Linked DNA regions of Homo sapiens. The protein of the gene in region 2 purifies or fractionates together with the protein of the main gene of each other region. This does not show direct contact. Each region holds a gene or a part of one and is shown on either strand. Other genes may lie near its edges.

What was found.
Region 1: the proteins of PALS1 (region 2) and MPDZ purify together in Homo sapiens (affinity purification with mass spectrometry; 3 studies listed by BioGRID and IntAct, with this or other methods). This does not show direct contact.
Region 3: the proteins of PALS1 (region 2) and AMOT purify together in Homo sapiens (affinity purification with mass spectrometry; 7 studies listed by BioGRID and IntAct, with this or other methods). This does not show direct contact.
Region 4: the proteins of PALS1 (region 2) and YAP1 purify together in Homo sapiens (affinity purification with mass spectrometry; 7 studies listed by BioGRID and IntAct, with this or other methods). This does not show direct contact.

The regions. Positions count from the first base shown.
Region 1 is NC_000009.12:13,220,540-13,228,117, reverse strand, and holds part of MPDZ (multiple PDZ domain protein), read left to right. Parts: intron 1-3,534; coding exon 3,535-3,744; intron 3,745-4,407; coding exon 4,408-4,547; intron 4,548-5,671; coding exon 5,672-5,885; intron 5,886-6,617; coding exon 6,618-6,746; intron 6,747-7,578. UniProt on the Homo sapiens protein: Member of the NMDAR signaling complex that may play a role in control of AMPAR potentiation and synaptic plasticity in excitatory synapses. Promotes clustering of HT2RC at the cell surface.
Region 2 is NC_000014.9:67,243,912-67,251,489, forward strand, and holds part of PALS1 (protein PALS1), read left to right. Parts: intron 1-7,578. UniProt on the Homo sapiens protein: Plays a role in tight junction biogenesis and in the establishment of cell polarity in epithelial cells.
Region 3 is NC_000023.11:112,809,346-112,816,923, forward strand, and holds part of AMOT (angiomotin), read right to left. Parts: intron 6,533-7,578; coding exon 6,013-6,532; intron 2,049-6,012; coding exon 1,904-2,048; intron 642-1,903; coding exon 549-641; intron 1-548.
Region 4 is NC_000011.10:102,113,035-102,120,612, reverse strand, and holds part of YAP1 (transcriptional coactivator YAP1), read right to left. Parts: intron 6,470-7,578; coding exon 6,219-6,469; intron 1-6,218. UniProt on the Homo sapiens protein: Transcriptional regulator with dual roles as a coactivator and corepressor. Critical downstream regulatory target in the Hippo signaling pathway, crucial for organ size control and tumor suppression by restricting proliferation and promoting apoptosis.

The DNA.
Region 1 (7,578 bases), on a different chromosome or scaffold from region 2:
TTTTCTTTTGTTTATTTTATATTCTATAAACCAAGGATGAGAATCAAGATCTTTTCATTAAACATTTGTGGCATGACTGCTATGAACAGACCTATCAAGGCAAATAAGATACACTCGTATTCCTCAAAGAGATTATAGTTCAGAAAGCCATTTTAATAAACAATTACAGCATAATCAAAGGTGCCTTTCTGCTTTTTCTTATGAGTATAAATTTGCCAATTTATAAATAAGACTTTTGTATGGTGGTATAATTAAATAATAGTTTTTAAATATGTGATCTCTATAACCTCTGCTTTTACATTTATGTAGACCTCAAGGTCAGGGATGAAGCAGGAGGAGTCATTGACCTTCCTCAAACCTTTAACAAATTAGGAAATGACAATTGATATTAAATACTTTTATACAGTTCTCATTTTGTAATATTTTACTTGTTCTGCTCTCACTCACTTTACTCTTAGAATGCCTGTATACCTACTCTTTCATAATATCAGAGCTTCTCTTTTACCATGAATCTCTTACAGACAGACTCTCTATTCTCGGGATGCGATTTGTTCATTCTGGCTTACCATAGCATAAGTCCAAATATTTTTTCCTATGCAAACATACCATAGCCATTAGGTCTTGGTGTGTGGGATCCTCAGGCTGTCACAAATTTCATTATGCCATCTGCTTCAACCTGAGCTGCGTGTCTTCTGCTGGCAAACTTTATTGAAGTTGCCATGGCTCAGGATAAAAAAAAAATCAATCTTGGCATAAGAAGCTTACTTTTGAAAAAATAATAATTGATCATGCCTGCTATAGATTTTAAAATAAACATTTAAAAGGATTCCCAAAAGTCTCTTCTCAACACATTGATCTCTTTTTCATCTGTGATTGTAGAAAGCTAATATAATGGTTAAGTTATTGGTAACTTTGGTAACTTAATGAGTTTTCTGTTTTATTTTTAAGGATAGGTAACAAACTCTTATGTATAGATTTTGGTGACATATTGTGAAATATTTTGATAGCTTCTGTCAGTGGATGTTCTTTACCTAATGTTTTATTTTAAATGATATCTCAAATGTTTTGTGGATAATACAAGGACTGTATGTTTTCTGTATAATACAAGGATGATAGGAACACCGTGATGAAAAAAAATCTAGGTCACAAACAACTTAGCTGTGTGACTTTACGTAATTTCATCATCCTTAGCATTGAGATGATACTTGAAAGGTTGTTCAGGAGATTGGATCAGAGTTAGATCCTTAAAAAATAGATAAACATTTTTTTTCTGCCAATGTATGTTGAACAACTCTGTATAAGGCATTCTTCTAGAGAACGAGGGCATAGTAAAAATAAAATAGTCAAAAATTTCCACTGGAGAGTTTTTGCATTCTAGTCGGTCTCCACTGACTGGGATGAAAGCTTCATGACAGCAGGGTGTGGATCAGGTGGTAATGAGTGCCATGAATTAAAACAGGGCACAGTAAGTTCGTGGAGTATAATGGTGCTGTCTTAGATAGGAATGCGAAGGAGGACTTTTCTGTGGTGAGATTAGGCACACCTGAATGAAATAAGGAAGCATGTGGATATTTGGGGAAGAATATACCTGTTTGGTAGAGTGAACAGCTTGGCACTTTGAGGCACAGTGAGGAGGGGAGCACAGCTAGGGCTAAGTGGGTGAGGGACAGACTGCTAGGAGATGAGGTCAGAGAGTGACTCAAAAACATCAATGAAGTAAGCTTTCTGATAAGTAGTTACAGATAAAAAGTCACAATCCAGGCACCCAACATAAATATGAAATTAGGATTGACTGCATTGCTTTATTATTATTTAGATTTAACTTCAAACTCTTTTAAAAGGCACACACAAATAATTATAGAATCATTTCCCAAAGTGGGATGATCTTTTCCGTTGTTGTTACGTGTGTCATTGTACTTGGAGTTAGCCAGACAGCACGATTTGAGGGCACAGTCCTCCAGACTGCCAGTGCTGCCCCACACTTCTGATACCAACTGTGGCGAGTTAGGGTCCAGCTACAAAGTTAAAGGTATAAGGATACACAAAACCACCCTCACTTATGATGTCAGCTGCAAATTTGCGAGGTTCCCCTAGCCACCTTGAGGTTTCATAATTCACTAGAAGGTCTTAGAGAGTCTCTGAAATCTGTTAAACTCATGGTTATGATCTATGGTAGGGAAAGGATGCAGTCAAGAGTCAGCCAAAGGAAGAGATGCGTAGTGCAGATTATGGGAGGATTCCAAACTGGAAGCTTCCATTTTGCTGGGAAAGTATAACTCTCCCAGAATCGATGTGTGACAATATGTATAGAGTACAGCCATGTGTCATTAGGTGATTTCATCCTTGTGCAAACATCGTAGGGTATACTTACCCAAACCTTGGTGATATAGCCTACCACACAGCTAGGCTATTTGGTATTGCTCCTAGTCTACCAACCTGTACAGCATGTTACTATATGGAGTACTGTATGCAGTTGTAGCACAATGGTAATTGTCTGTGTTTCTAAATATAGAAAAGGTACAGTAAAAATGTGGTTAAAAGGTAAAAAATGGTACACCTGTATAGGAGACACGTACCATGAATGGAGCCTGCAGGACTGGAAGTTACTATAGGTGAATCAGTGAGTGAGTGGTGAGTGCATGTGAAGGCCTACGACATTACTGTACACTACTAGATAGTCAATATACTGTATGCTACTAGATAGCCAATATAATGGTTGAGTTATTGGTAACTTTGGTAACAATGAGTTTTCTGTTTTATTTTTAAGGACAGGTAAAAAACTCTTATGCATAGAGTTTATACATAAGTTATAAATACTGTACACCTAGGCTATAGTAAATTTACAAAAACTTCCTTCAATAATAAATTAACCTTAGCTTACTGTAACTTTTTTTTCCTTTATAAAGTCTTAATTTTTTTTTAAACTTTTGACTCTCATAATAGCACTTAGCTTAAAGCACAAACACATGTATAGCTGTGTTTGACTGTGTTGCAAACCCAGGAAGATTACCTGATCTTGGTGTTCAGCATTTTTTATTGGCGTGTTATTTCATAGGTGTGATTGATTGCCCTGCCTATATGATTAAAATTCAGCTCCGAGTTTGGGCTTATATCATGTGGCCTTGGGGCCCACCATGAAGAAGAAAGATACCTCATCACTCAGGAAATTCTGAGAGGGGAAATTCTGAGAGTTTAGAGGTTACTTCATAGGATCTGGGGACAGAAAAATATATGTGTGGATGTATATATTTATGGGTGTGTTTTAATGAGTACCCTGAAGTTGAACCCTGGCGGTAGTTTTTGAATTTTCCCATCTAATAAATGGTGCTGCATTGAACATTTAGTGATGCACACACATCTTTGTGTATTATCCTAATGTTCATCCTTGAAATAAATTTCCCAAAATAGAATTGCTGGATTAAAGGATTTGGACATTTTGAAATTTCATTTGTATGTCCTTGTACCCTTGGGATATTTTCTATGAAATAGTTTATGGAATGTCAAAATTCTTAATAATCCCTGCATTACTCTTAGGTAAATATTGCAACTTCAGCAACTTCAAATATTGAATATGCCCACGTTCCTCATCTCAGCCCAGCTGTGATTCCTACTCTGCAAAATGAATCGTTTTTATTATCCCCAAACAATGGGAATCTGGAAGCACTTACAGGACCTGGTATTCCACACATTAATGGGAAACCTGCTTGTGATGAATTTGATCAGCTTATCAAAAATATGGCCCAGGTAAGAACATTTCTTTCTGTTAGTTATTGTAATACCTGTAGTAATTTAAGAATGTGATCAAGTTATGGATAATTTGAAGAATATAGTGACATTTATAACATCTGAAAACATTGGAACAAAAAGTCAGTTTTGTGGGAGTTTAGATGGTTCAGACGTTTTCTATTACAGTTTTATCATCATTTAAATTTGAGTATTATATGTTGTATTATAGAAATATTCTTCAGGATAAAGTGCTAACAATTACCTTGGAAAAATGTTATTCAATTTCTTTTTTTTTTAACAAAGAAATGATTCTGATAAGATGACTGTTACTGCAGTAATTGGCTTTTAAGTTTTTTTTTGAGACATGCCTTGCTCTGTCACCCACACTGGAGTGCAGTGTTGTGATCATAGCTCACTACAGTCCCAAATTCCTGGGCTCAAGGGATTCTCCTGCCTCAGTCTCCTGAGTATCTGGGACTATAGATGTGTGCCACCACACTTACTAAGTTTTATTTTATTTTTTATAGAGATGGGGTCACATTATGTAGCCCAGTCTGGTCCCTAACTCCTGGCTTCAAGTGATCCTCCCACCTTGGCCTCCCAAAGTGCTGGGATTACAGGCGTGAACCACCATGCATGGCCTGGCTTTTAGTTTTATTTCTTGCTTTGTTTCCTAAACAGGGTCGCCATGTAGAAGTTTTTGAGCTCCTCAAACCTCCATCTGGAGGCCTTGGGTTTAGTGTTGTGGGACTAAGAAGTGAAAACAGAGGAGAGCTGGGAATATTTGTTCAAGAGATACAAGAGGGCAGTGTGGCCCATAGGTGAGATGGTCGCGGCGTCTTCTTTGTTTTTGATCCCACATTCTGAAGGTTTTGGTTACTATGCAGGAATTTAGAAAAATAATAATGAATGGCAACAAAAAATTGAACATAATCTGTTATTAACCAGTTTTTAGAAGTCATTAACATTGTTGTGATAAAATAGCAGGTTCTTTGAAATGAGAGTAGCTTTTAGATATAGTCATAACTTAAGTTTTGGTAAGGAAAGAAAAATTTGAGGATAACATTATTTTCATTGTTAATTAAATGGGCTCTTTTTGATTAGATTTTTAAAATTACCATGCTAGAAATGACCCATAATAATTCGAGCTGCATTTTTTTTATGTACCCAGAGCAATAATTTAATATAGTTGCCCCTCAGTATCCATGGGGAATTGGTTCCAGGACTCCTGCAGGTACTAAAATCTGCAGGTGCTCAAGTCCCTTATATAAAGTGGTATAGTATTTGTATATAGCCTGTGCACATTCTCCCATATATTTTAAATCATCTTTAACTTATAATGCCTAACACAGTGCAAATCCTATGTAAACATTAGTAGTCATATTGTATTTTTAAAATTTGTGTGATTTTTTTATTGTTGTGGCATTATTTTTTTTGAGTATATTTGATCCCCAGTTGGGGATCTAATCTATGGATGTGATCCCCAGTTGGGGATCTAATCTATGGATGTGATCCCCAGTTGGGGATCTAATCTATGGATGTGATCCCCAGTTGGGGATCTAATCTATGGATGTGATCCCCAGTTGGGGATCTAATCTATGGATGTGGAACCCATGGATACACAAGGCCAACTGTATAGATATATCCACTTTCATTTTTAGAAGATGAGAATATCCAAGATGTAATGTAGGCTGAGTAGGTAGCTGAAATAAAGAGTACTTTTATATGGGAGGGGTTCAGTAGGAGTAGCAGTGAAATAACCTTACGAGAGTTGATGACCTGCAGCCAAGGCGTGTATTTTTTTTAAAGTAGAACTGCAGGAAAAAGCTTAGAGTGTGGGAATTAAAAATAGGATTAAAAATGACTTGAACATACATGCCAAAGAAGCTGTCATTTCCTTGAGAACTCTCAGATTGTCTTTTATCCCCTTTTGCATCCTTGATAGAGATGGAAGATTGAAAGAAACTGATCAAATTCTTGCTATCAATGGACAGGCTCTTGATCAGACAATTACACATCAGCAGGCTATCAGCATCCTGCAGAAAGCCAAAGATACTGTCCAGCTAGTTATTGCCAGAGGCTCATTGCCTCAGCTTGTCAGCCCCATAGTTTCCCGTTCTCCATCTGCAGCCAGCACAATTTCAGCTCACTCTAATCCGGTGAGTACCTAAAATTTTCAAAAGGAACAGAACGTATTTTTCAAGTTGTTTTTGGTTATCTCCAAGTTTCTAATTTGTGTAGGGTCTTTGCACTTCTTGAGTTTTTGTCTGACTATTCTTTTATTTTTCCCCAGCCTGGAATATTTGTTCTTTAAGCATGATAAAGCTTCTAAGTTCTAAAACAACAATTACTTTTCTTTGTGTAGTTTTGTCCTTTGACAGCATTCCTTAAAAATGAAAAATGTAGTCCTTTAACAAAATTGACTTTATCTGTAGACAGATACAAGCTTGATTTTGCTTTAAAAATTATACAATTATATTGTTAGAGTTAGCTGTCAGTAACTTTTAAGAAGTCATCTAATTTGGAATCCTGCCTCAAGGCAGGATTATGCAGAAGACATTCTTAACATGTGACCTTTTTTTTTCTTTGAACTTTTTCTTTTTTTTTAAAGAAGTTCTACAAAAGATCTTGCAAATCAATGCCTGTCTTTAACTGTTGAAGTGAAATCATTATGATGATATATTGATAATTTCAAGAATGATTCTGTCAATGGCACTTACATTCTGTTGAAAGGGAAGTATACCAAATGAAAGGGACATTGTTAGGACTCATTATTATGTCTGAATTTAATTATTTAATATTAACAAAATAATCGCAAAAATTTCTACTGTAATGTAAAATGGTAGTGCTTTGTAAATTTCTACAAATTCATATATGAGCTTTGTTTGTAGGTTCACTGGCAACACATGGAAACGATTGAATTGGTGAATGATGGATCTGGTTTGGGATTTGGCATCATAGGAGGAAAAGCAACTGGTGTGATAGTAAAAACCATTCTGCCTGGAGGAGTAGCTGATCAGGTAGGCTACATCAATAGATCTTTTATGCTATTTTATCAAATAATATGGGTACATCTTTTACATTTTTTTGTTGGAAAGAAGAAACTTTGGCCTTAAATGATGCCAAAGAAATTGAGTTAGAATCTTTCGTTTTATTGAGTGTCCCTAAAATGTTGTCTTAGACCTAGGGGAGGAATACCTTTGAAAAGGGACAGTAATCTTAAGTTATAGTTTTAGACAATGAGTTTAACACTTTTGAACCTCAGACTAAAGCCAAGGTTATGGATTTGATAATTGTGGAGGTAGCTACTATTTGTTTTATAGTCATAATTCGTATTTATATACCTAGTCAGCTGTTTTATAGTCACAGGGTATTGTGGGAAAATATACTTTTGTATTCAGGCAGAAAAACAACATTCACCTTGTTCCTTTAGTGATGGGTCATTGGTATCATCTTTGTGTATGAAACACAGCCTGTTTTTTATCACTTGAGTAGTTTATTGAGGCATTACCATTTATGATATGTGACATTGTTGCAATATATGTGAGAAAAGATTTAACACATTTGTTATGATTTATATCTTAATTTGATAAGGCTTACTGGTTTAAGTAAGTTTTGCCTTGATTATAACTTTTTAAAAAATAAAGTGGTTGTTTATACATGTGTGTTTGAACTTAAAGTAGGAAGTCCAGCTCATCAAATATTCCCTGTATTCATAAATGAAATTCCTGTTTAATGGCAACCTTGTCAGTAGGGGTGTTAACGGTAATATAATAGTATGCAAATTTTTCTTCCTTTTAAACATTAGTTAGCATCTAGCAGCATCAAATGAAATGTCTCTCGTTGACTAGC
Region 2 (7,578 bases):
GGAGTTAAGTAATCCGTAGTCTGACTGCTAGTTAGGGGCAGACTTGGAACTACATGAATGCTAAAATGCTGTTCTCCATATTCTAAGTCTCCATATTCTAAATTCAGTGCTCTTCTCAGGATGTCTCATTGTTAGATAAACCAATAAGTTGCCTTTTCCAAATCACTTAACTGGCAGGATTCTTTCTGTCATGGATTTTTTCCGTTTTCTTTTTTAATAACTACTAACTGCAATTCATTCCCCTACTGAAGAATTTTCAGTTTTTTAATATTTCAAACAATGTTTAATGAATATCTTTGTGTATGTCTCCTTGAGCGCATGTGTGGACGCTTTCCTAGAATGTATGTATACCTACCTATAAGTGGAATTGCTGATAATAGGTTGATATGTGTTTTCAACATTACTAGCTACAGCCAAATTACCCTTTTTAATGCTGTAATCATTTACATTCCTGCAAACAGTATGAGTGACAGTGGCTTCACATTCTTGCCCACACTGGGCATCGTAAGATTTTAAAATTTTTGCTAATCTGGTGGATGAGAAATGATATAATTGCTTCTTTTCTTTAAAAAATATTTAACTCTAATTTACATGAAATGAAGTTAACTTTTCATTGTACAATTCCAACTCAGAGAGCTGTGCAACTACCACAATCAAGGTAAAGAACAGTTCCATCACCTATCCATTCACCAGTTGAAGGACATTTGAGTTGTTTTCAGGTTTTTTGTGACTGAATAAAGTGGCTGTAAATCTTTGCAAATAGGTTTTTGTGTAAACCTAAGTTTTTGTTTCTCTTAAGTAGATGGAATATGGTAGGTATAGCCTAATTTTATCTTAAAATTAAAAAAAGACCTATCTGTGGTAGACAGAATAAAGGTCTTCAAAGATATCCTAATCCCTGGAACCTGTGAATATGTTTGCTTAAGTGGCAAAGGCTTATTTAGGTTGCTAATCAGATGACTTTAGGGAGATTATTGTGGATTATTCAGGTGGTCCCAGTGTATCACAGAATCTTTAAAAAAGGAAAGAGAGAGGCAGAAGAGTAGAGTCAGGAAAAAAAGATGTAACAATTGGTCAGAGAAGTGCAAAGTTGCTGGCTTTGAAGATGGAGGAGAGCAGGCCACAAACTAAGGAATATGAGTGGTGTCTAGAATCTTGAAGAGGCTCCAGAAAAGAAAGCAGCCCTGCCAGTAATTTTAGCCAAGGGAGACATATGCCAGATTTCTAACCTATAGGACTGTAAAATAATTTCTGTTGTTTTAAGCCACTAAATTTGTGGCAATTTGTTACATTGGCATAGGAAACTAATACATTGTCAGGCTGGGTTTGAAGTGGCTGAACCACTTTGCATTTCCACCAGCAATATATGAGAGGTCAGTTGCTTTACATTCCTGTCAGCACTTGGTATGGTCAGTCTTTAGATTTAGCCATTTTAGTAGTATCTCGTTGGGATTTTTCTTTGCATTTCCCCCATGACTGAGGATGTTGAGCATCTTTTCATGTGCTTATTTGCCATCTGTTTATCTTTGGTAAAGTGTCTGAAACTTTTGCCCATTTTTAAATTGGATTATTGTCTTATTGCTGAATTTATTATTATCTTATTATTTTTTCCTTTTTTCTTTAGGGATGGGGTCTCACTATGTTTCCCAGGCTGGTCTCAGAACTCCTGGGCTCAAGTGATTCTCCTGCCTCAGCCTCCCAAAGTGGTGGGATAACACGCATGAGCCGCTGCCCCAAAAGTTTTATATAGTCCTTTATCTTTGTCAGATAAGTGATTTACGAAGGTTTTCTTCCACTCTGGCTTGCCTTTTCATCCTCATAACTTCTATACTTCATTACTTTTGAAGTATAGAATTTTATATTTTGAGAAAGTCCAAATTATTAATTTTTAAAATTTGAATATTGTATCTAAGAACTCTTTGCTCAATCCACGGTCAGAGAGATTTTTCTCCAATTTTTTTTTCCAAGTTTTATATTGTAATTTTATTTTTAGATCTATGTTCCATTTTGAGTTTATTTTTGTATAAAATGAGAGAAGTACAAGTTGTTTCACTTATTTGTTTGTCCAGTTCCATGACCATTTGTTTAAAACATGATCTTTTTCCCATTGTATTCCTCTTGTCTCTTTGTCAAAAGCTATTTGACTGCATTTGTTTGGGTTTGTTTATGGACTCTTCAATTGATCTATTTTGTCTATCCTTTTTATTTTTTATTTTTATTTTATTGTATTTATATTTTTATTTTTTATTTAGAGACAGGGTCTCTCTCTGTCCAGGCTGGAGTGCAGTGGTGTGATCTCTGCTCACTGCAGCCTTGGCCTCCCAGGTTCAAGCAATCCTCCCAAGTAGCTGGGACCACAGGCGTGCCACCGCACTTGGCTGATTTTTAAATTTATTTGTAGAGATAAGGTCTTGGCTATGTTGCCCAGACTGTATTATTTAAAAATTTTTTGAGACAGGGTCTCACTCTGTCACCCAGGCTGGAGTACAGTGGTGTGAATATGGCTCACTGCAGCCTCAACCTCCAGGACTCAAGCCATCCTCCCACTTTCCCCAGTGGCTGGTACTATAGGTACATGCCACCATGCCAGGCCGATTTTTAAAATTTTTTGTAGAGACAAGATCTCCCTATATTGCCCAAGCTGGTCTTGAGCAGCTGAGCACAAGGGATCCTTCCACCTCAACCTCCAAAAGTGCTAGGATTACAGGTGTTAGCCACTGAGCCTGGCCTACTATAGGTTTTTTTTTTTTTTTTTTTTGAGATGGAGTCTTGCTCTCTCGCCAGGCTGGAGTGCAGTGGCACGATATCAGCTCACTGCAACTTCCCGCCTCCTGGGTTCAAGTGATTCTCCTGCCTCAGCCTCCCAAGTAGCTGGGATTATAAGCGCGCACCACCACGCCCAGCTAATTTTTGTATTTTTAGTAGAGGCGGGGTTTCACCGTGTTGGCCAGGATGGTCTTGATCTCCTGACCTCGTGATCTGCCTGCCCCGGCTTCCCAAAGTGCTGGGATTACAGGCGTGAGCCACTGCACCCAGCCTACTATAGCTTTAAAATAAGTCTTCACATTAGGTAATGTGACTCTTCCACTGTATTCTTTTTCAAAATTGTTATGACTATTTTTAGTTCCTTTGCTTTCTGTATGATATTTAGAATCATCTTGATAATTTATACATTCTGTTGGGATTTTGATTGAGATTGTGTCTAATTTAGAGATCAACCTGAAGATAATTGACATCTTAATAATTTGAGTCTTCTCATCTATGAACATGCTATTTCTTTCCATTTATGTGAGTATTGTAGTTTTCAATATGCAGATCTTGCAAATACTTTATTAAGTCTATACCTAATTATTTTAATTTTTTGGTCCTATTGTAAATGGTAATCTAAAAAAATCAGATTCCAGTTGATCACTGATGGTATATAGAAATTAATTTTTGTATATTGACTTTGTATCCTGACTTTCTGCTAAACTCCCTTATTAGCTCTAGGAGCTTTTTTATTTTAGTAATTTTTTTTGGAATTTTCTAAGTAGACAGTCGTGCTCAAAACTTTTCTTTCCTTCTAGTCTGTATGCCTTTTATTTCTTTTCCTTAACTTGCTGTATTGTCTTGGTTAGGACTTCCACTGAGATGTCGAATAGGAGAGATGAGAAGTAGCATCTTTATCTTGTTCACTTTTTTTTTTTAAGATAGGGTCTCACTCTATCCCCAGGCTAAAGTGTAGTGGCGCAGCACTGCTCACGGCAGCCTCGACTTTCTGGGCTCAGTTGATTCTCCCATCTCAGCCTCTTGAGTAGCTGGGACCTACTGCAAGTGCCACTATGCCCAGCTAATTTTTTGTATTTTTAGTAGAGACAGGGCTTCACCATGTTGCCCAGGCTGGTCTCAAATTCCTGGGCTCAAGCGATCTGCCCACCTCAGCCTCCCAAAGTGCTGGGATTACAGGCATGAGTCACAGTGCCTGGCTTCTTGCTCACTTTCTTAAAGGAAAAGTATTCAGTCTTTCACTTTTAAAAAATGATATTAGCTGTAGGTCATTTTGTGCATTCTGTTAAGGAGGTTAAGGAGGTTTTCTTCTGTTCCTAGGTTACTGAGGGTTTGTTTTTTAAATCATGAATAGATGTTGAATTTTATCATATGCCTTTTCTGCATGTATTGAGATGATTGTGTGAACTTTTTTCTTTAATCTGTTAATATGGTGAATTACACTGATTTTTCAAATGTTGAACCATATTTGCATGTTTCTGGGACTAACTCTGGGGTTATTTTAAACAAAAATCATTTTGGATTTTTAAAAACTAATATACATTAACATTTATTCTTAAAAATGAAGGAGCAATGTCACATGCCTGTAGCCCCAGCCAATTGGGAGGCTGAGGTGGGAGGGTCGCTTGAGCCCAGGAGTTTGAGTCCAGCTGAGCAACATAACAAGATCTCTTTTCTTAAAAAAAAAAGGAAACCAAATATAAGATTTTGTGAACTAAAATACTTAATGAAGTCAGTAGAGTCAAGGTATTCATTAACAGTTACCTACCTACATTTTACATTTTAGTAGGACTTAAATTTTCTTGATTATGATATAACATTATAAAAATTAAAACATTTGGCTTTCTGTCTCATATAATTTTATAGTTTCTTCTTCAGTTAATAGTCTCAAACACCCTCAAAGACGTTGAAATTTTGAGGCCTCCAGGGTTCTTGGCATTTTGCTTCTTTAAGGCAGGGGTCAACAACTTTCGGTAAGTATTTTAGCTTCGTGGGCCATATTGTCTCTGTTGCAAGTACTCAGTTCTGTTGTTAGAGTGGCAGAGGTAGCCAAACAAATGAGCATGACTTTTCCAATAAAACTTTACTTATAAAAATAAGGTGTGCCTGATTTGACCTCTGGACTTAGTTTACATACCAACATTTTTATTTTATTTTTTTGAGATAGAGATGGGGTCTCACTGTGTTGCTCAGGCTGGTCTCGAACTCCATGACCCAAGTGATCCTCCCAAGTTGGCCTCCTAAAGTGCTGGGATTACAGGCATGAGCCACCACGCCTGGCCTACATACCAATTTTTTTTTTTGAGACCAAGTCTCACTCTGTCCCCCAGGCTGGAGTGCAATGGCATGATCTCAGCTCACTGCAACCTCTGCCTCCCGGGTTCAAGTTATTTTCCCTCCTCAGCCTCCCGAGTAGCTGGGATTACAGGCACCCGCCATCATGCCTGGCTAATTTTTGTATTTTTGTGGAGATGGGGCTTCACCATATTGGCCAGGCTGGTCTTGAACTCCTGACCTCAGGTGATTTGCACGTCTCGGCCTCCCAAAGTGCTGGGATTACAGGCGTGGGCCACCATGCTTGGCCTCATACCAATGTTTTAAGGCAAAAAATCAGCAGGAGAAATGACAGTAATTGTAGTAATGTAGTAAAAGGAAGCTTGGGGTATTTATTTCATGCTGTAATTCTAGGCCAAGCCTCACTTTTCTCACCTATGACATGTAGCCACCTTGAAAGATGATTGAAAAATTCAAGCTGAGATATGGAAAGCACCTAGCAAAATATCTGACACATAGCAGATACTTAATAAATATTCACTTATTCACTTTTTGTTTCAAGACTGCACAGTGCTTTGTCACAAACCAACAGATGTGAAATAATTAAGGAGAGTCAGGTTTTTACAGTTTGTAGTATATCTAATAAGTTCAAATATTAGAAATTTTAATTATGTGTCTATAGTTATCTTTTGAGTTATGCTTTTTTGATATAAATCATAATTGGCTTCACAATTTGAGAAACTTCACACAAAAAGTTGAGGATTTTGTGTGAAAACATTATATTTTGAGAGTTTTACATTGTCACAGAAAAGGTTTGAGAATGTAACTTAAAATACATTATTTTGTTTTGATGTAAGAAGTAGGCAATCTGTATTTTGCTTGTGTGTTTTAGAAGTGCCTTTAAGACTGCATTCGTTTAACGTGATTGCTTCCTATGAATGTAGTGAGCTAGGTGCTCTGCTAGGACTTGGTTGTACTTAGAGTATCCATATTTAGATACTCATTTTTGTGTTATGTTTGAAATGTAAGTAACGCTTCGGAAAGTCTTTTTTTCTGAGTTTCTATCAAGATAAAGCTGTTCTATTTTGTTTTTTATGAAGCTGGTTGAGATTCACTAGAGCGATTTTATGGCACACAAATGGGTCACATCCTACAACTTGAAAACCATTGATGTAGATAGACGAAAGTAACCCTTCTCCAAGAGGCTGTGTTCATAATTTCATTTAAAATTCAGCCACCCACTCTTCCTTCCTCCAGGAACGTTCCATACCCTCCTACTGGCAATAAGTTTTAGTTCTTAAAATTTTAGTAAAGTATGCATTAACAATTTATTCTTTTTTGTAACTCATCTGTAAATTATCGAGAGCTGTGACTACTGTTTGATGTTCATTTATGCTCAGAAGTACTAGACACTCAAATATTTACTGACCAAAAAAATCTGGAAGAAAATAAGTTATGTGTTAAACAGTGGTTCTTCTGTCTTAGTATTGGAAATCACATTGCCTCACATTGAAAACTGTATAAACTCCAGTTTATGTGTACTGGACATGCAGATTTAACTGTCTAATATTAAACAAAAAATTCTAGTTAAACAGATTGTTTTGTGATTCTGATAGTCATCTGGGCCCTTCCTCTGAAACACACACACTGTTCATACAATATGCAGGGATTCATGGAAATAAAGTCATGAACCCCAGATACAGGTCTCTGATCCAGGTGATTCATCGACTGTATAAATGACCTGCAAATGTTTTTCACAATAATGATTTGCATAAGGGTAATCAGTACATACTTAGAGTTAACGAAAATAAATTTCATAGTTTTTGTAGGCATCCTAAAGGAATCTTATCCTTCTGTTTTTTATACCTTATCCTTTTATACTTAAAATTTATAGCAAGATTGATAGTTCATTTGACCAAATCACAATACTTTCTGCTTTCCCCTCTTATCCAGAATTGTATCCCTCGCTGTGTCTCTTAATGTGTTATGCTGTATGCTGTATCCTTTGTATGTATTTCTTAAATATTAACAACTACATTTCAAGTTCTTTGTCAGCATTCTTCTTTTTACAAATGAGGAAATTGAGGCTCAGAGAGATTAAATATTTTTTCCATAGTCCTATTATAAGTGATAGAAAGGAGTTGAATTAATTTTATTTGATCCCAAAGCCCTTGGCTTTTCTGCTTTGTCTGTAATATAGCCTGCCTTAAGACTTATTTTAACATTGTCTTTTTGGTAAGATTAGAAACTTTTTGATGAAAGCCATTTTCCACTTTACCTAGTGTTTAAAAATGTACGTGAGGCTGGCGCAGTGGCTCATGCCTGAAATCCCAGTATTTTGGAGGCCGAGGCAGGAGGACCGCTTGAGCCCAGGAGTTTGAGACCAACCTGGGCAACACAGTGGGACCCTGTCTCTACAAAAAATACGAAAATTAGCTGGACTTGGTGGTGTGTGCCTGTGGTCCCAGCTACTCAGGAGGCTAAAGTGAGAGGATTTCTTGAGTGTGGGAGGTTGAGGCTGCAGTGAACCATGATGGC
Region 3 (7,578 bases), on a different chromosome or scaffold from region 2:
CACTATTATGAGGAAGACACAGCTCTGCCCTCCCCCACATCCTCCAACTCTGCAGCCAGAGTCACTAGTTCAGGCCATAGGATTAGCTCCCCTTGCAATCTGCTGCTGTGTAACAATAAATACTAGGGAGCCCCAGGTACAGGTGAAGTATTCCAAACACTATCATCGATCCTGCATATTAATCCCATCTCTACCAGAGCCAACACACAGTTTCTTCTAAGAAAATCCCTTCAACATGAAGGGACCTCATGTTCAGTAAGCCTCTTTATTTAGATAGCAATGACACTAGCAGGGATTTCAAGGGGCTTCTCTAGTTTAATGCTGAAGGACCAATGTGATGTGACGAGATGTTGTGGCAAGCAGCCTTCTTGGCTTAGGAGGAAAAGAACAGAATCTTCCAACTTCATGCCTGAATAGGAAAAACAATCCTTAGGTGATATTGACTCTGCCCTGGCTGTTCTAAAAGGCTAAAGAGAACAGTGTAATCTTTTCACGCACCTTGCTCCCATCCACACGTTAATACCTGTTTCTGCAGCTTGCAGACTTACTTTTTGCAAAGAGCTGCGAGATGGTTTTTCTGGTGTCCTCTGACCCCTCATATTCCTTCTCTGCAAGCTGCTTGTTGGCAGTCTCTAGACGCTCTGTGAAATTTGGAGACAATCAACAGGGTCTCAAATGTAAACTTTCATGCACATACTATTGGCCCTCTAAATACTGACCTTTGGTAAAACAAGCCTGTTTCTTCTTGTTAAACAGGAATGGGTGACTAACATGAGTTTGCAAATGTGAATCCCAAAATAATACTAGACCATGGCCGGGGAGGAGGAGGTAAGTATTTAATGCTTTCACTCCTCACTGCCAAAACCTAAGTTAAGTGCAGAATTCTAAATTTCAATGAAATTATCCATCCCCAAATATATAAAGATATCTTTCATTAACCAGAAAAAAAAGAGTATCACAGTTATTATAAAGTATTTAAACTCATGTAATGTCAAAGTTGAAAGGGACAACTAGCAGCATGTATTTGGGCCCCCTGACTTTAAAGATAAAATAACCAAAATTCAAAGATAGTAACATCCCTGGCCGGGCACAGTGACTCATGCCTGTAATCCCAGCACTTTGGGAGGCCACGGTGGGTGGATCACCTGAGGTCAGGAGTTTAAGACCAGCATGGCCAACGTGGCAAAACCCCATCTCTACAAATACAAAAATTAGCCAGGCATGGTGGCGCACGCTGGTAATCCCAGCCAGCTACTCAGGAGGCTGAGGCAGGAGAATCACTTGAACCTGGGAGGTGGAGGTTGCAGTGAGCCGAGATTATGCCAGTGCTCTCCAGCCTGGGCGACAGTGCAAGACTCCAACTCAAAGAAAAAAAAAAGAAAAGAAAAAGGAAAAAAAAAAGAAAGTACCATCCCCAAGGTTAGCAGTTTTGAAGGTGCTGAAGGCACTTTAAAGTAGAAATATTTCCCAAAGTCTTCAATATTATCAGGTGAAAGTCAAAAATAAAAGGAGTCAGTCAGTCCTGGAAATAAGAGAGGACATTATACTTCAAGCTTGCAGTCAAAGGGCACGCCTCTGTAAAACCTGTTAAAAAGAAGAGGCAGCACCTATTGTGGGGGTGGGCCAGGTGGGTCCAGGAGTCCCAGCAGGGATCCTGCCTGATTAACACATCAGCTCATTGCTCAGAAGACCAGTGAGGTACATCCACACTTTGATCAATCAAGCTTGGGACTGAGGACTATTGCAGTCACAAAAAATTAGCCTGGCACATGCCCAGCCATTTACTGCCCATACCGGTGGGTTGGACAACCCCAAAGAGCCTAGTTGGATCCTGCTCAGCCCTTCCCTTCACCACCCTGCAGCTGCTTCAGAAGTACAAAGACAAGTCTGTTGGTTCCCTCACCTCTCAGATCCCTGTTGAAATCATGCATCCTCCGAATCTCGCCCTCTAGCTTGTTTCTCATGGCTTTCTCTAGGGCCTCTCTTTTGGAGGATGACTTCACGAGGTTCTCATATGCCTCCGAGACGCGCTGGATTTCTGTCTCCACCTTAACAACAAAAAAAGACAATGGTGGTGATGGTAGGAGGGTGATGGGGAAAATGGTCTGAAAACAAACAGGCAAATCCTCGCTGACAGCTTCTCCCAGGGCTCACAGATGGCCAGGAGGCAAGCATAACACAGTCAGATGACACAAGTTTCAAGAAAGGATCTCCACCTTCAACCATAAGCTTAGTAATTAACTCATGGTGTCATGGTCTTTCCTCGGGTTAAAAAAATAGACAATTTCTGCCTTCAGAGGAGATGGTAAGATAGAATAAATTTTATAAATAGTTATAAAGGATTTTAATTTCTGAAGAAAACTCTTAATTTTGAAAATATTAGTAATAATATATATAGTATGTAGATATTCCAAAGCATTCAAAGGGCTTTCACATGTTGGTTCCAGTCTGCACTGATTATCTGCCTAGACAGGATACCTCTTCTCATTTTAGTAGAGAGAAAAGTCAAATTGCCTCTGAAGATCAACTGTCAGCAGCAGAGACCAACCCTAAAAACCCCAAGCTTCATGAAGTAGTTCAGTTCAATTTAACAAACATTTACCAAGGGCCAAATATTTACACGAACTCTTTAAAGTACTATTGGGGGTGTGTAAATATGAATGAGAACATTCTCACTGCCCTCAGGGAGGTTTCAATCCAATCGAATGAAAGACTATAGGGCAAGATACATCTTTAAGAAAAGTAGAAGTAGTGCCATAAAGTACAGACAAGGAAGAAGTTATTCCTGGTTGGGGAAGTGGGGAGGAGAACAATTTCTGAGAAGAGGTGGCATTTACAGTCAGATCCTGAAAGCTGGGTCAGATTTCAATGAGCAGAGGTGAGGGGAAGGGTATTCTATTCTGAGTAAGCAAATGCATTCCCAGAATGACCAGTCGTTTAATTTGGCTGGACACTGTGGGGTACGCAGAGGGAACCTGGCGAGATATGGCTGCTAAGATAGATTGGAGTCAGATCATAAAATGCTTTTAATGCCAGGCATTTGGACTTTATCCCATAGTCAATGGGAAACCAGTATAGGTTTTTGAACACAAAATCATAATCAGAGTTGTGTTTTATGACACCCCTGCAAATCTCATAAAATGGGGAAAATAAACTCAGAGAGAAAGGGTCTTCCCCTGAATCAGCCACAATCAGGCCGAAAATGAGAAATTAGACTCCAGAGTTTTTCTGTAACTAGTATAGCTCCATTGCACATATAATAGCCACACAGATATTTGCATATAATTTGTATAAGACAAATAAACCCACGGTCTATTAAGCAATTTTCAGATTAAATTGGACTCTGCAACCATTCTGCATTGCTTCTGTGTTTTCCACTATCCTGTTTAACAAAGCTCAGGGTACTTTCAGGGAAGAAATATCAGGCCCCTAATGGGACACTAGGGGAAAGGTAAGGTTGCCAAACCAGTCAGATTCAACCCGCCTCCATCTCCAAAATTCTGCCAGAGACAGGACTGCCTGCAAACAAATAAGGCTTATGCCACAGAAAAGAGCAGACTCAAAAGTGTTTTTCTCTTCACAGATGGCACCAAGATAGCAGCACAGAAGGTGAAAACTGGTGAATGGCATTTAGAGACAAGATCTGCAAGGCCTGCGCCTGATGAAGCTTTTGCATGAAACTCAAGCGCTGGGGAGAGAAAATAAACATTTCCATCTGAAAGAGCAGGCTTGGTGTTGGTCTGCTCTGGGCAGCATTTATAGTTCAAGGCTGTCCGGTTGTGCACAGAATGCAACACCTAGAAGGTAGTCCCTTTCCTCAAGGTGTGCAGACTGCTATTTCAAGATCTTGTACTAATCCTTCCCCTACCCCCTGTGTAGATACTCCATCCTTCAAAAGGGCAAGTCCCACAGCTCTCAATAGGGCCTTCCAGGAAAAGCCATCACAGAAGGATATATCCACTGGTTTGGGCTGGGTGATGGTGGGGGCAGAGAGGAGGGTGGCAGTGGGTTTTCCAGACTTACTCTGTCTACTTATTCCCCTCATGAGCCTCAGGCCTTTTCATTTCCTCCAGCACTACCTGGGATCTACCTTAATTTTCCCCACTTTCCTTTTCCTCTCCTGGTCCACCTTCCCCTCTACTCTACCTCGACACTGGGTCAGCCTCTACTTTCCCAACATTCAAGCTGTTCCAGTTACACTTATTTGAGGCATCTTTTCCCATCTTGGGGAACAAACAACAGCAATCCTATTCTCTGTCCCTCTTCCCTGTCACTGGCTGAACCCACTCCCACACACACAAAAAATCACCATGGATCCTCTGGCAAAAAGGGCCCGTATTAGAGCTGGGTTCATCCTTCAGTGATTGTATCAAAGATGGGCTGGGATCACCATGAAGAGAGAGTTTGGAGAGGGGGTGTCAACTGTTAGCCTAATCAGCCAGACTGGGTTTCTAGTGTATGGATATAATTAATTTATTTCACCAAAGCGATGGGGATAGGGATATAGTTAAAATTTGCGGGTGAAAATACAAAATCAGGGAAAAGCCGGGAAGAAACAATTCTCAGAGCACTCCAACAACCCTCATCCAGATTTAGGAAAACTAAGGGACAGGGAAGCCATTTTCCTATATAAAAATCCTCTGTTTGCCAGGCGCAGTGGCTCACGCCTATAATCCCAGCACTTTGGGAGACCAAGGCGGGCGGATCACCTGAGGTCGGGAGTTCGAGACCAGCCTGGCCAACATGGAGAAACCCCGTCTCTACTAAAAATACAAAATTAGCCAGGCGTGGTGACACATGCCTGTAATCCCAGCTACTCAGGAGGCTGAGGCAGGAGAACTGCTTGAACCCAGGAGGCGGAAGTTGCAGTGAGTGGAGATCGTGCCATTGCACTGCAGGCTAGGTAACAAGAGCGAGACTCCGTCTCAAAAAAAAAAAAAAAGAAAGAAAGAAAAAAAATCATCTGCTGATAATAAGCCCCTGTCTCCTTGAGGCCCCCAGATTTGGTGTCTGTTTACAAATACTCAGCTTCATTCAGGCCTCTGAAATTTTCACTCCTGGTGTTTCCTAAGGACAGAGTTGCTGGACAATACAAGGCATCCTCCTGTCCCTCCCCCACCTTCACCCTCACCTCTCTGAACAGTTCACATTGTAGGGAGACCAAACCACAATAGCTCCACAATGACAAAAGCTGCAAAGAAGCGGCCAAAGGCATAACCCTATTCACCAGCAGCCCCTGGAAGCCAAGAGCTAAGGTTCCTCGCTTGGGGTACTCCAGAGGTAAAGTCCCAATGGGGGTGGGCAGAGAAGAATGTGAACTGGAGATACACTCCTTTTTCTATTTCCTCAGCCTAGGGCTGTCACCTGTCACCCAGCTGTGGTGTTAAGCCCCTCCTGCCCCCCACATACAACAGAGAAAGAGAGCAGATGTTGAATTTGAGCTGCAGGGAGGGACCAAATCAAAGGGTGGGGTGGAGGGATTGTTGAAAGAGAGTTACTATGAGAACTCCCACTAGGAAAAAGTATTCTGAGCCTTTTCCAGAACAAGGCAGGACTGCTCAAACTTTAGCTGGTGAGATTTTTCTAGGAACTACATTTATTTTTATATTTAAGATTCAAATTCATATTTGGGAAAATGTGACCAAGACAATGAGCCTTAAGGTGCCGTCAGATCCTTTACCTATAAAGGCATCACCAGTATTCTTATCAAGAAGTATCACTGCCTTTTGGAATTCTAAAAGAATTAATCACGTTTTCTTTAGGGCTATAGCGTCTGGAAAAACTGCATAAATTTTTTTCTCCTTGTGTAAATGTAAGACGTTACTTCTCCTAGGTAGACAGGTAGAAGGCTTTTTCCAAAGTTTGACTCATATCTAACCTTCAGATATAAAAATCCTGAAGACCTGCCACAAGTAATGCTGGGATTCACAACTGGAGACTTTAATGTGGATATTAAACAAGTCTCACAAATAAAGACTTAGAGACCCTAATATCCCAAAACGGAAGCCTCACCTTCTGCAGTCTTGCCACCTTCTCATAGCATCCTTCCAACTCTTGCCTCAAGTTCCGGTTCTCGTCTGAGAGGATCTCAACCATCTGCTGGGCTCTGGAAACAATGGCAAAAGGGTCTGCTGGCACTGGCTGATAAGAAGCAGAGGATGGCTGAGCCCGAGGCATAGCTGAATAGGCTTCTCCTGGCTGCTGCTGTGGCTGCTGCTGCTGCTGTTGTTGGTGGTGATGGTGATGATGGTGCTGCTGCTGCTGTTGCTGCTGCTGCTGACTCAGGCCAGGTTGGGAGAGACGGTAATGATCCCCCTGGTGAGCCTGATTAGGAAGGAAATGCTGCTGCGGCCTAGGCAGGTGAGCTGAATGGTCTCCCTGGTTTGGGACCAAGGGGTGTCGGGCAGGAGACAATCTAGTGGATGGTGGAGATTGTAGCAAGGGCAAGGACCCCCCAGAGGTCAGAGAAGAAGTAGGGCTGTGAGGCTGCGAGTTCCTGGCTGACAATGGCAATGAGATGTCCTGCGCTGGCCTGTAAAACATGAAGGGCAGGTGCGGGTTAATTTCTCTCCTAAGGCACTGGGGGAGAAGGGCACACAAAAGTGAGATGAGGAGGCTTCTGATGCCCCCAGGACACCTGCAAAATGAAGAGCAGGCAGGGTCTGACTATGGGGAAGTCTAACCCTGCCTGCTCTATCTCTGCAAAGACCACAGCCCTTTTCCAGCCTGACCTTCTGTGCCTCTGCCTGACAAACAGAGGTGTGATCCCATGAGGGTCAGAACCAGACAACTTCCATGGTCACTTTGTGAAAATCGTAGTGATACACACCTGTACACCCGTTTGCTCAAGTCTAAACATTTCAAACGATTCTTCTACAAGGTAATTTTCATCTCATTATTTTAAATTAAACCTTTTCTGACATTATACACGTGGTCCAGCACACATAAAGATCCTAGTTTAGAAACTATGTTCCATTTGCCAGGATGGAAACAACAAACAGCCATAAAAACCACCCCCATCTTGCTATCTGCAACTCCCTTTAGTAATTCATACATTCACAAAAAAAAAGAAAAAAAACTATTCAAGGATTGGTAGATACTTATATTAGAGACACTAAATGATTATTGTTGCTTCCAGTTGTTAACGATTTAATGATTCCCATTAGCAGTAACCATAAAAAGACTTGAAGAGGGTTACAAGCAATGCTAACATACTATTTTTGATGTAATGAATCGCAAAATGTAAGAACTGGAAAGGCCTTAAAAGAAAATTATTTAGTTCAACTCTATCACTGGACAGATGGGGAATGAGGTCCAGAAAGGGGAAGTCATCTGCCAAATATTAGAGTGGTGGTGCCAAGATAGAATCCTTCTTTCCCAATTCCCATTTTCTGGCTTTTTCTACTGCCATAATGCATTGATTTCTGTGCACTGATACTTAGATTTCCAACCTATTGCTCATAGAAAGTTCCAGAAAGAGACCTTTGGTACATTGTTTAATGTGGCTCTCCCATTTTTGTACCTAATTACCAGGTACAAAATGCTAACACCTAAGTATAAATAATTCATACCTAATGA
Region 4 (7,578 bases), on a different chromosome or scaffold from region 2:
CCCACCCCCAACTGAGAATCCTGCTGAAGAACTTGATAGTCGAGTGACTAACATCCCATAAAGAGATAGAGAGACAAATTAAAGTGACAGCACATGAAGTAATGGCACTAACCACAAATAAAGCACTGAAAATATCTGGTAGAAGAAAACCCAAATAATAGATACTGCCATTTGCACTATTTTATTAATTTGCAACATCATTCAAAGAAACAACAGACTATCACTTGGTTGGTGTGTTTAAAAATTATGATTCTTCTCATGCTAGGAGCAAAATGAGGATTAAATACTGACCATTTTCCTTGTCTAGAATATTAAAGGGGAGGTGGGGAGGACTGCTGTGATTTAAACCAAACTTCTTTGTTTGCATTTAGAAGGGGTCAAGCCCTACGTAAATAAAAGTGCTTCCACGGTGGCAGTACTTGTTCCCAGGAAACTTGGTGCTACAGCACTTGAGCAACCAGAACCATGAAGCAATTCTTCTTCATAGAAACGGCAATGTCCCTTTCATGGCTTGTAGTTCTGATTAATCCTAGAATCAGAAGCCCTTTTTGTAAGAAGTGCATCACCTAGTAACCACAGTTATAGAACGACACAGCTCTTTAAGACCTCCCTTTATACAATGCTACTCAGCTATTATTAAAAACTTTCAAGCCACAATTAATGGCTAAATTATGCTATTACAGAGGGTAGCATTAAGTTTGAATAATCTTAAATCTTAGCAACTGATTTTTAAAATGACTTCACTTTGATTGGTCCTAAGCTTAAATTTCTATATATATTTTGGCAATAAAACAGTTTAGAGTTTACCTCCCCTCAAAGCCTTAAGGTACAAGGCAATGCAGAGTCATGATACCCTGAGTATTTTAAGCTGTGAATTCACATTATTTTTCTAACTACAAAGTAAAATATTTCTCTACATAACTAAAGAGGACTTATTTTAGGGTTGTAAAAACCTGGGTTTTTTTTTTTTCCAAGTTTCAACTATTTAAATGCTATCTAGATGTTTGGGTTTTTTTTTAATGGCTAAGATAAAGCTTTAGGAAAGGGTATTTTTTTTTAAATGTGACTTTAAAAAGAAAATTAGCCTACCACCTTGCAGTCAATTGAGTCTGCTACATTTAAACTTCCAGAGATAGTTCTAGAATTCTTTCTAGAACTAAGAATCATAATTTTTAAACACACCAAGTGACAGTCTGTTCTTTGAATGATGCTGCAAATTAATTAAATAATGCAAAGAAGTTCTAGTGAACTTCTTTCTTAGTTCACACTAAAAAAATTCCATTATTTTTCCCAGGGAATATGTTAATCTCTATGTTCTATTTACTCTGTCACATCTACTATCTTCCAACTGTTTTTCTTCTGCCACTGGTGAATACAGTTTCTCCAGGGTTCTCTCCCTAAATCACTGTGGCACTGTGTGCCATTCTTCCCTGGGATGCCCACCCACTGAGCAGAAGTAAGCTCTCCCCCACCCCCCAGAGCTAAGGGCGTACTTTCATCTTCTCTCTCCACTCAGCCTCAATAGCAAGACAAACAAGCAGAGACTGGCCTTCCCTCAAATAGGGAAATACTTCGTGATTGCAATTTGAACTGGTTTTTTGTTTGTGTATACATGTGCACGTGTGCAACTTAACATTTAATGGCAAAATTACAAGCTTTTCAGTTTTAAAGGGAAACTCTGGGTTATACTTGATACAGAAAGAAACAGTATAGCCTTATTCTTCATGAAACTTCCTTTTAAAGAGGCATAATCTTTATTATGAAGATACACTGTATATGTTCTGTATACAATGTATAAATACCAGGTACACTGTATATGATAACAACATACACTGTATATGTTCATAGTCTTTTTTTTTTTTGAGATAGAGTCTGGCTCTGTCGCCCAGGCTGGTGTGGAGTGGTGCAATCTCAACTCACTGCAGCCTCCACCTGCCAGGTTCAAGCAATTCTCCTGCCTCAGTCTCCTGATTAGCTGGGACAATAGGTGTGCGCCAACACACCCGGCTAATTTTTGTATTTTTGTAGAGATGGGGCAGGAGAATCACGCGAACCCAGGAGGCAGAGGTTGCAGTGAGTTGAGATCGTGCCACTGCACTCCAGCCTGGTCAACAGAGCAAGACTCTGTCTCAAAAAAAAAAAAAAAAGGAAAGAAAGAAAAAAGAATCAGCCTATGTATAGCGATCAATCACATCTACAAGGCAAATTAATATAGGAATATGGGTAGTTTTATGCCATGCAATGTCAAAAATCTCTGAAAAACATATCCTTTTTAAATTGTATACCAAGCTACTCAATATAACTTAATCAAATCACAGCCACAAAAAACCTTGAATCTTCGCAGACTAAAAACATTGTGGCCAGTTATTCAGAAAATGATAAACAATGGAAATGAAACAAAACTGTGCTTTAAAAATTATTAGAACATTATTAAAACAATGCAAATGTACAAACTTTTAAAATCACTGATCCAGATTCCTTAAATCAAATTATAAGGTCCTACATGGTACATTATATATAAGAACACATATCTTTGAACATGGTAATAGTTATAAGGCATCAGAGTCAATAAAATAAACTTGCAAGTAAAACACTCCTTGAAACCAGAGATATTATAGAATACTGAGTCAGGAAGTTATTCAGCAGCTTATAAAGAAATAGGAAGTTGTTGACCAACTACTTGAAGAACTATTTCCTGTAGGAAAACCGTAAGACAGCTGAAGAAGGTAATAACTCTCAGAGTCATAAAGAGAATGAATTCTTTTAAAATGAAAGCTCAATACGATGGTAAAGAAAATAGTTTTGAATAGTAAATGTAGTAGAACAAATATTATATGGCTAAGCCTTGTTTACATACTTCACATTCATCCCAGAGCTTGAAAACAAGCCACTGATAAATGTAACTAGCACCATACTTCCACCGTATCACTTGCCAAAGTAAGGTATGAGTCTCCTCCACAAGATCTCACTGACCTAAGGAGGGCTTTAAAACAACGAATGATTGCCTGCTTATAATCTTTCAGTAATCATGCTGCCTGGAAACTAGATGATAGGCCAACTAACTTCAAAAACTCAATCATCTATGGTCACAAGGCCAACAACTGGGTTGTTTCTTAACATTTCTAAGTTTTTTCTCAAATTACATCGTCTTGCCTGTCTGGACCATTTATAGTCAGGTTCTTCATGCCAAATATAAATCTCAATAAGTTATAGACTTTGTAACTTAAAAGTCAGTTCCAACAAATATCTAAAAAGATGCATTAAAATAAAATGTTTCATTGCGGAAACAAGTGTAAGGCAACTAATTTAAATCTTCATTCTACATCTGATGACAACAACACTCCTCTTTAGATACAAGAGGAAAGTATATAAATATTGATTACAAAGACAGCCCTATTTTAAAACATCAAAACTAGGATAAAAATGAACTTTGACAACAGAAACTTGGCACCAAAAGCTTAGTTTATCATCATCTTTGACTAATGGTTAGGATATTAATCTCATTTGTCTGTTCAGTACACAAAAAGAAGTTGTAACAACTATACGGTCCATAACATCATGGAAGTAGCTAACTGGAGAAGGTGAAATAATCTTATTTCATAACTTTTCTCCAAATTGCATAATGTTCATAAAGCAGATACTCTTTAAAATACAAAATTTTATAAGCCCACAGCATTCTTCTCCCACATCCAATGTTTAGGGGCCTCCATAGAATCCCTGACAGATACCAAGTAACCATGATTTTACCTACATTTATTGAGCAAGATTTACCTGTCCAGGAAAACTCTTCTAGTTCTTAAAAGTTTTATATAAGAAAATTCTTCCATGGAATCAAAATTCCTCACATTTCTTATATAGTAAGACTAATCCTACTCCCACATAAAAGTTCCCCAGAAACACTGAAACAACAATCATGTCTTATCTCTCCTCCTCCCAGTTTTTTCTTTTCCGGGTAAATATCTCTCTACCCTTGCAACCTTTTCTCCTATGACATAATTTGAGATTTATTTATTTTAGCCTGGTTTATCTTCCTTACAGGCCCATAGTTGACAGGGGTGAATTGAGGTGACTGGGGTTGGAAGGTATATACCCTTCATTAATCCATCTACATATATCAATACCTTTAAGAGAAACATTTCTTCACAAAGGAAGAATCACTGGAAACTTTGAAAAATGAATAGTCATTCCTTAGCATCTGTGGTCAAGGATTGGTTCCAGGACCTCCTACATGTACTAAAATCCACAGAGGCTCTGGTCTTTCATATAAGGTGGCATAATATTTGCATATAACCTATACATATTCTCCCATATACTTTATATCACCTCTAGATTACTTATAATACTTAATACAACGTAAAGGCTAAATAGTTGTTACATTATTTAGGAAATAATGACAAGGAAAAAAGTTTGTACATTAGTCAATACAGATGTAATTTGTTTCCAAATATTTTCAATCAGAGGTTGGTTGAATCCATGAATGCTGAACCCACAGATACGGAAGGCCAACTGTATCTAGAATACTGATTTCAGCTCAAAAAAAGATCATTCATTCAAAATAATGAAATCGTAGGCAGGTATCACCTACAAGCAATTATTACAAGATACAAAGAACTAAGAAGAAGAGCATAAATGTTGCTCTTTAACCTTATACTTTTAGCCACAGCATCAACCAAAGAAAGAAGGAAAGCAGGCTATTAAGCTGTTTAACAATCTCCCCAGGTCAGCATGTGACCCAGCAGGGAGAGGTTCAAAAAAGTGCAGCCTTTCTTTTTCTTCCTAACAACCTGGTTTGTTTCCACTCCCTTCCCCTTCAAGACACATCCTTCACAGCTAGCAGCTCTTTCAATCATTTACTTTGGATGTCTGCTTGAGAACAAATGATCTTGCTCATGCAGATGAGTTTGCCAGACTTGTGTGTACTTTCCAGTCTCAGGCCCTTTACTGTTCTGGTTGAAACCTGATCCTTTGAAATGGATACCAGGACACCAGAAAATGAATTTTTTTAAAAAAAAAGAAGAAAAGAAAAGAAAAAGTTGCAGGAAAGGGGGCAAAAAAAAACTGTACGAACTTTTCATGATCAAACCTTTTCCTTTGCTCTTCTGTAAGTCTGTCACAAAACTTTCTATCTTACATTACAAAGTAGCAACCCACCCTGGAAGACAATCAATATAAAACACATACTAGGATTCACACAACAAAACATCCTTAATGGTGTTATCTGGTATGATAAATAAATGTTACATTTGCCTTAGGAGTAGACTGTCAAGACCTATCCGAATCAAAACTTACACTGTTTTTCACTTTATTATCTCAACCTGATTAAACACTATTAAGTGAGCTTTTTTAAAGACATCAATTTCAGTCTATCATAATTAGTTTTAGTCAACATTTCAATATATACTTGATCCAAACAAGCCAGAAAAAAATTGAGGTCTTATCTGTAATTTCAAAATCAGAGGAGAGAAAATTCTATTTATGTCTTTTCAGCCTAGTGTAATTCTGCCATTTTATTAAACACAAAAGGACTGAAAAAATAAAAATAAATAAACAACCCAACGGTCATGTTTTTGTTTTCCCAGAGAGGAGGGTTTCTGTTGTGAAGACCTACTAGCTTGAAAGAAGTTTGCCACTGAGCGACTGCATATGAAACCTAAAAATTTTTATTTCCCTTTACATTTTTGGGGGGAAATATTGGTAAGTCACATCAAGCTTCAGTTGTAGTGCTTGTCATTTCACAATTTAAAATACTGTAAAATTAGACTCCCCCAAAAGCCCTACTTATTTTGTAGTTCTCTACCAATAAAATATTTATTTAAAAAGATACAAGTAGCACCATACGTATTTTGTAAGACGCTGCTAGCCCTGTAATTCCCAGAATTTGAAAATTTTCATGGTATTCTTTCTGTTTTGTGCTAGGCTAATTAAAAGGTTTGGCACAAGCTCAAAATGAGAATAACCAAACTTCCACAAAAGAAAAGATTATAAAGAGGCTCAGAACCAAGACTCAGTAAAGCTTTCAAAATATTACCCATACTAACAAAGGTATTTAGGTCATACCAAACTGAAACATATATATGGAAGATAGAGCTACAGAGCTTAACATAAATATTAAATAAAACATAAAAATAAATGATATTCTGTATCTTGACACCACTTTACTGTGTTTTCCAATACATATTTGTCTTAGATAACTGTCTCCCACCATTATTTTCACTTACTTTAAGAAGTATCTCTGACCAGAAGATGTCTTTGCCATCTCCCAACCTGCTGGCAGAGGTACATCATCAGGTATCTCAAAAGAAGACTGTCGAAGATGCTGAGCTGTGGGTGTAGCTGCTGGGCCAGAGACTACTCCAGTGGGGGTCAGTGTCCCAGGAGAAACAGCTCCCAACTGCAGAGAAGCTGGAGAGGAATGAGCTCGAACATGCTGTGGAGTCAGGGCTCCTGCAGTGCCTGCATCAGTACTGGCCTATTAGGGAATATTAAGATGAAAAATTAAAAAAGAAAAAACACAACTGAGTCCCTTTAAATTTCCCAGTCAGCGCTTAATTGCAGCCGAATATCTAAGTACCAAAGGAAAATTTCAACATTTAATATTCGACACTGGAGAACACAGGTTTTCAAATGGATACTTTTAATATTATATAATTTTAATATAAATTTTATAAATGTTTGTAATTGTATTGATGAGCAGTCCATCTAATGAATTTCCCCTGGTCCACACTAGACATGTAAGGGCAACTAGTACTGAATGAATAAAACATTCCAAAAATAATAGTGAATTTTAAAACCTAATTTTTAAGAGGTCAGTGCAGTTATGGGTGCTTTTCCAAGTTCTAAAATGTTCTAAGTATAAACACAACACAAAGAATATGTATTTTTTACTAGGTTTTAAGTAATTAATTTTTTTTCTAGGTCAAACTCAAGAAAAATCAAGCCCTCGTCATTTATTCCAACCATGATAAAATGCCATCAATAAAGAAATCATAACAAATTACACAAATTTTAATGAGAGCAACAAATTTGAACTGCCCAAATGTTCTTAAAAGCCATCTACAATGAACAGGATGAAAAAAACCCAACTATATCTTTGTATGTAGAAGATAAAGATGTTATCAGTCCAATTTTAACTTAAGAACTCACACACATCCACAACTCTATACAAGCAGAAAAAATTCTGCATTCAGACCCCAAAGATCTGAGTTCCAGTCTAAGTTGGCTAGTGTGACACTGAACAAGTATCTTAACTTCCATATGCCTGTTTTCTCCTTTATAAAATAGTTTTCATGATAGAAAAATGGATGTATATGAAAGAACTTACAGTCACCAGTTTGTGTTGTGAACAATAGTATTTACAACCTAGATTTGTACTATTCATAATCTTGCATAGTTTTTAAAATATTTTTAATTAGCATTAGAGTTTGATTATCAAAAAGTTAGAATTTCCTAGATTCACAAAGGTAAGGAAACTGGAAGGACTCAGTAGAGTCATTAATGCCTTAAAGTGATACACCTTTTTGAGTTTCCCATCAGAATAAGTATGATTTAGGAAATCATTAGGAGAAATAAAAGTCGAAT